2 linked regions of the Homo sapiens genome follow. The protein of the gene in region 1 purifies or fractionates together with the protein of each later gene. This does not show direct contact. Each region holds a gene or a part of one and is shown in the gene's direction. Other genes may lie near its edges.

Evidence for each region.
Region 2: the proteins of BRME1 (region 1) and F11 purify together in Homo sapiens (affinity purification with mass spectrometry; one large-scale study listed by BioGRID and IntAct). This does not show direct contact.

Annotation. Positions count from the first base shown.
Region 1 is NC_000019.10:13,896,118-13,899,617, reverse strand, and holds part of BRME1 (break repair meiotic recombinase recruitment factor 1), read left to right. Parts: intron 1-3,500. UniProt on the Homo sapiens protein: Meiotic recombination factor component of recombination bridges involved in meiotic double-strand break repair.
Region 2 is NC_000004.12:186,269,189-186,272,688, forward strand, and holds part of F11 (coagulation factor XI isoform 1 preproprotein), read left to right. Parts: intron 1-2,420; coding exon 2,421-2,583; intron 2,584-3,500. UniProt on the Homo sapiens protein: Factor XI triggers the middle phase of the intrinsic pathway of blood coagulation by activating factor IX.

The DNA of each region.
Region 1 (3,500 bases):
AGATCAAAGGGTGCATTGCACTCAGTTCCTGCCCTGGAGATCCTCCAGCTGTAGTCAGAGGACAAAGGAAAATGCTTCTCTCAGCGAGAGCTAAGCAAATACACAGCAGTGGGATAAAGTTCTAAACGGGCACTCCCGAACTGTAACTGACAGAATTACAAGCAACTTACCGTGCGCCATGGCTCACACCTGCATTCCCAGCACTTTGGGAGGCCAAGGCAGACAGATCACTTGAGATCAGGAGTTCAAAACCAGTGTGGCCAACGTGGTGAAAACCCGTCTCTACTGAAAATACAAAAAAATTAACCAGGCATGGTGGCTTGCACCTGTAGTCGCAGCCAATCAGGAGGCTGAGGCAGGAGAATTGCTTGAACCCAGGAGGCAGAGGTTACAGTGAGCTGAGATCATGCCACTGTACTCTAGCCTGGGCAACAGAGCGAGAGTCCATCTCAAAAAAAAAAAAAAAGAAGAAGAAGAAGAATTAGAAGCAATTACAGGAAGATTGCTGTGGTTTAGTGGAGGGCAAACAGCTGAATGGGGACTGATGCAGACCCTAGCAATTGGCGTCGAGGAAAGAGAGACTCATTCAGTAGGTTTACTTCACGATGTGTAAGTGTGTAATGTAGAGCTGAGGTTGGAAAGAGTCCATCTGGGGTTTGGATAGTGTTATTCTTTTTTTTTTTTTTTTTTTTTTGAGATGGAGTTTCACTCTTGTTGCCCAGGCTGGAGTGCAATGACGCGATATCGGCTCACTGCAACCTCCGCCTCCCGGGTTCAAGCGATTCTCCTGCCTCAGCCTCCTGAGTAGCTGAGATTACAGGCATGAGCCACCATGCCCGGCTAATTTTGTATTTTTAGTAGAGACAGGGTTTCTCCATGTTGGTCAGGCTGGTCTTAAACTCCCGACCTCAGGGGATCCGCCCGCCTCAGCCTCCCAAAGTGCTGGGATTACAGGCATGAACCACTGCGCCTGGTCCTGGATAGTGTTATTCTTTAGTGTTTTTTTTAGAGATAGGATCTAGCTCTGTTGCTGAGGCCAGAGTGCAGTGGCACAATCACGGCTTGCTGCAGCTTCAACCTCCAGGGCTCAAGCAATCCTCCTGCCTCAGCCTCCTGAGTAGCTGAGACTACAGGTGCATGCCACCACCCTCAGCTAATTTTTAAATGTTTTATAGAGGTGGGATCTCACTGTGTTACCCAAGTGAGATCCTGGACTCAAGTGATCCTACCCCCTCAGCCTCCTGAGTAGCTGGGACTGCAGGTGTGCACCACCACACCTGGCTGTTGGTTTGTCTTTTTGTTCTGCCTGCCTTGGCAGAAATCTACTACATAGTAGGCATTCAGTAAATGCTCAAGTATTCTTAAGTGTGCTGGTTCTGGAGTTGGACGGGGTGCCAGCCTTGGTTCCTGGGCCTCTGTGTGCCTTAACGTTTTCACCTCTCTGGGAACTTGGGGCCCTTGGGTGTCAATTCTCGCATCTTTCCTTTCCTTTTAATTTAATTTAATTATTTATTTTTTTGAGATGGAATCTCACTCCCTTGCCCAGGCTGGAGTGCAGTGGCGCCATCTTGGCTCATTGCAACCTCAGCCCCCCGGATTCAAGCGATTCTCCTGCCTCAGCCTCCCAAGTAGCTGGGATTACAGGTGCCCACCACCATGCCCAGCTAACTTTTGCATTTTTAGTAGAGATGGGGTTTTGCCATATTGCCCTTTTATTTATTTATTTTAATTTAAATGTTTAATTTAAATGTTTTTTTGAGACAGGCTCTAGTTCTGTTGCCCAGGCTGGAGTGCAGTGGCACAGTCTGGACTCATTGCAATCTCTTCCTCTGGGCTCAAGTCATCCTCCCCCTTCAGCCTCCCAAGTATGTGGGACTGCAGGCATGCACCACCATGTTTGGCTAATTTTCGTACTTTTTAGACAGGGTTTCGCCATGTTGCCCAGGCTGGTCTTGAACTGCTGAGCTTAAGCAATCCACCTGCCTCGGCCTCCCAAAGTCCTGGGATTACAGGCTGGCATCTTTCCTTGCTGGTGGCAAAGGCCAATATTTTAATCATGGACAAAGATAATATTGAATTGCTCAAGGTACTTCTGTAAGGCAGGCATAACAGCAGCACCCTGCCTTGAGCTTTTATCTTAACACACACAAGTTCTTAGGACAGCATCTGGTGTGGAACTCACTAGAGTCAACCCTTATCATTTGTTCACTGAATGCATGATTAGGTTGGGGCCAGGCTTGGGGAAGTCTTACAAGCCAGCCACTATTGAAAGTTTTGATGTGGCTGGGCACGGTGGCTCATGTCTGTAATCCCAGCACTTTGGGAGGCCGAGGCGGGCGGATCATGAGGTCAAGAGATCGAGACCATCCTGGCCAACATGGTGAAACCCTGTCTCTACTAAAAATACAAAAATTAGCTGGGTGTGGTGGTGCGTGCCTGTGGTCTCAGCTACTCAGGAGGCTGAGGCAGGAGAATCACTTGAACCCGGGAGGCAGAGGTTGCGGTGAGCAGAGATCGTGCCATTGCACTCCAGCCTGGTGACAGAGCGAGACTCTGTCTCAAAAAAAAAAAAAAAAAGTTTCGATGTAAGGGAGTTTTCTTAATTCAAAAGATAGATTCTGGCGAGGCAAAGTGGTTCATGCCTGTAATTCCAGCACTTTGGGAGGCCGAGACAAGAGGATCACTTGAGCGCCAGAGTTCACGACCAGCCTGGGCAACATATGAGACCCTGTCTCAACAAAACAAAAGCAAAAGAAAACTTAGCCAGGCATGGTGGCACACACCTTTTGTCCCAGCTACTTGAGTGGCCTGAGGTGGGAGGATGGCTTGAGCCTATGAGGTCAAGACTGCAGTGATCCACAGTTGCACCACCTCACTCTAGCCTGGGAGACAAAGCCAGACCCTGTCTTAAAAAAAGAAAAAATATATATATAGTATATATAATACATAAATACATATATGTAAATACGTATGTATAAATACATATGTATGTATAAATACATATGTATAAATATATATATTTACATATTTGGCTGAGGCTGAATCCTGAGGTGGCGTGGCCTGGCTTTAGATCACATGGAACAACCTGGCAATATAATGGGATATATAATATATATAGTATATATTTAATAAATATATATCATATATAAATATATAATATAATACAAGGATATAATGTTTATAATATATTAATATATCATAAATATATAATTTAAATAATATATTTTATAATTATAAATATGCAATATGTAAATACATTATAATTATATATTTTATATGTATGTATATATTAAATATGAATATGTATGTATTTTATATATGATATATAATATATATTAATTTTTTTTTGAGACAGAGTCTCGCTCTGTCAACCAGGCTGGAGTGCAGTAGCGCAATCTCAGCTCACTGCAACTTCCGCCTACCAGGTTCAAGCGATTCTCCTGCCTCAGCCTCCCAAGTAGCTGGGACTATAGGTGGGTGCCACCATGCCCGGCTAATTT
Region 2 (3,500 bases), on another chromosome or scaffold:
CCAGGAATGAAAAGTTGATTTAACATTCAAAAATCAATAGATGTGTGACTTCGGGGTACATACCGAAAAAAAAGAAGGGAAAGCAGGAACTCACACAGATATACTTGTACACCCATCTCATAGCAGCATTATTCACACTAACCCAAAGGTGGAAGCAGCCCATGTGTTTATCAACAGGTGACTGGATAAAGTGTGGTACATACATACAAAGGAATATTACTCAACCCTAAAAAGAAAGGAAATTCTGACACATGCTATGACATGGATGAACCTTGAGGACATTACGCTAAGTGAAATAAGCCAGTCACAAAAGAACAAATACTGTGGGATCTCACTGATAGGAGGTACTTAGGGTAGTCAATTTCATCAAGACGGAAATTAGAACAGAGGTTGCCAGGGGCCGAGGGGCCAGGGGAAGGGCTGAGGGTTGGTGTTTAATGGGCACAGAGCATCAGCTGGCGAAGTTGAAAAGTTCTGGAGGTGGATGGTGCTGATGGTTGCACAGCAATGTAAATACCCTTAGTGCCACAGAACTGTACACTCAAGATGGCTACATGGCACATGGTATGCTATCTGTCATAATAAAAAATAAAAATAATTTTAAATGTTAATATGTGCCGAAAAATGCTTGCTAAAATTCTATTAATGATCAAAACTTTAAATAAACTGGAAATGGAAGAGAACTTTCATCAGCTATTAAACGATATTTTAAACAAAAGCAAACAAAAATCCAAACCAAAAATCTTCAAGAAACATAATACGTAATAGCGGAATATTGAAAGCTTTCCCAAGGGATTGAGAATAGGACAAGAATACTTCCCATTATTTCCATTTACTCTTGACTGGAGGTACTCGTTGGTGCGGTAAGGAAGGGAAATAAAAGGAAAACGATTAGGAGGAACATAAGCTCTCGTTTTTCACAGATGATGTGATTGAGTACCTAGAAAAATCCAAAATTAACCATCACATAAATTATTTGAGCCAATTAATTAAATGAGTAAGAAGTCTCGATACAACGTCAATATACAACAGCAAGCACTTGCTCGTTCGCAAAAGCAGATGAACTAGTTTTTACTGACACTAGAAGCAGCATGTGTTCCATGTGTTCCACATCCATGCACTCAAACAACCTTGACGTGAAATATTTTTTAAAAAATTGTATCTGTACTCAACGTGTGCAGAGTTTTTTTCCAAAATTGTTTTCCAAAAATTTTTAAATGTTTATATGTTTAGGGGGTGTAAGTGCAGATTTCTTACATACATATATTATGCGGCGGTGAAGTGCCGGCTTTTGGTGTACCCATCACCCAAGTAGTGAACACAGCCTCCAACAGGTAATTTTTCAACGCTCACCCCACTCCCATCCTCCCATCTAGTGGCATATTGAAAATCAATTTGTCTTGTAAAATTAAATAATCCAATTAGGAGGGGGATATATTCTAAGGAAATTAGTGCATGATGCACACACACACACACACACAGAACACGTGTGTGCGCATGTGCACATGAGAGAGAGTGAGAGAGAAACTGGGTCTTGCTCTGTCGCCCAGGCTGGATTGCAGTGGTAAAATCACAGCTCACTGCAGCCTCAAACTCCCAGGCTCAGGAGATCCTCCTACCTCAGCCTCCCGAGTAGCTGGGATTACAGGTGGAAACAACCATGCCCAGCTAGTATTTTTTTTTTTTTTTGTATTTTTTATAGAGACAGGGTCTTGCCATGTTGCCCAGGCTGGTCTTGAACTCCTCAGCTCAAGCAATCTACCTACCTTAGCCTCCCAAAGTGCTGGGATTACACGCATGAGCCACTGCGCCCACTCCGCATTATTAAATATAGAACATTTATTTGATTCATCAGTTAATATTCTTCTTAAAAGTACTATTTTAATGTAGCAAGATTGCTTTCCACCAAAAGGTGGGGTTTCCACGGTGGGGTTTCCAAATTATTCTCAATGGGGTGAGGATGTGTGTTATCACACCCCCGAGCCATCAGATGCTGTCAGAAAGTGATCACTCTGAAGTCTTTGTTTCAAATAAGCACAGGGTTTGGATAAAGAGACGCAATTAGGAAAGGAAAAAGCAGAAGGCTCGTTCCAGACCTGGATGAGATCCTAAAAAGCAGCAGCTTTTGCCAGTAAAGATCCTTGAAATGATTCAATTACCCTCAAAGCACTCCTTGTCTCCAAGACAATCACTCATAAGCACAATTCCATTGAAGCCAACGTACCATTTTGTGATTTTCGTTTCCACCTGAGGCTGTTCATTCAATAAACTCACATAAAAGTGTTTATTGCCTTGATTTCCAAATTCAGGCGTATTTCCTGGTAAGTAGAGCTACTTGCCTTGCCTTTATGAGATTACCACCTAACTAGATGTATGCCCAGTAAAATCCAACATAACGCATGCCATGTACTACATCACAGAATGTGTGACTCAGTTGTTGAAGGACACCTGCTTTGAAGGAGGGGACATTACTACGGTCTTCACACCAAGCGCCAAGTACTGCCAGGTAGTCTGCACTTACCACCCAAGATGTTTACTCTTCACTTTCACGGCGGAATCACCATCTGAGGATCCCACCCGATGGTAAATGCTTATGTTTCTACATCGAGGAGACAGATTTTTAAAGGGAGATTGCTATTCTTAACACATTTCCATCTAACATTTTATAAAATTTAACATTAACAACTGGAAGATAAATTGTCTTTCAGTTGAAATATTGTTACAGAAAGAAGTGATGGTGTTTACGCAATTTAGAAAAGAATAAATATGCCTCCAAGTGTAGACTTTCCAGCCTCTCCTATAGTCTCATATTAATGGTATGTTTCTTCTGTTTGTCTCAATTTTTACACTTCTTAAACATTTCACACTTTGCTTTTCTATCGATTATTAATTTTTGTCGTGCTTCTCAACAAACTGGAACTTCTCCCAACTATTTTATTAGAAAAAAATAAAATATTTAAAAAGAAAATTTGAAAAAAAGTACAGTACAGTGATCCCCCTGCCACCACCAAAACCGCAATGTTTGCTATATTTGTACAGCAATATACAATATACAATACCTATATTTGTATACATGTTTAACCGTTTGAAATAATTTTAAAACATGACACTTTACCCCTAAATACTTCAGCATGCACTATCCTACACAAAAGACATACGAAATTTAACAAGAATTCCTTTATATTATTTCAGTTTTCCCTCAAATATAATTTATAGTAATTAACCAGAATCTTACCAAGAGTCACTCACTGCATTGGGTGGTTTGTCAGGTTTAAAACATTTTAAACAGTCCACCAACCATTTGTATTCCCATCCTGAGCTTGAAAATTTAATAATAAGCCTTTCTGTAGAATTAAGTTTTCAACATCTTTATTATTGCTACATTCACAGGCATTTATGTAGCACCCAGAACTTATAAAATTTACTATTCCAGAACCTAGAGCAGGGATTGGCAAATGTCTTCTTAATAACGCAGAGTAAATATGTTAGGCTTTGTGGGC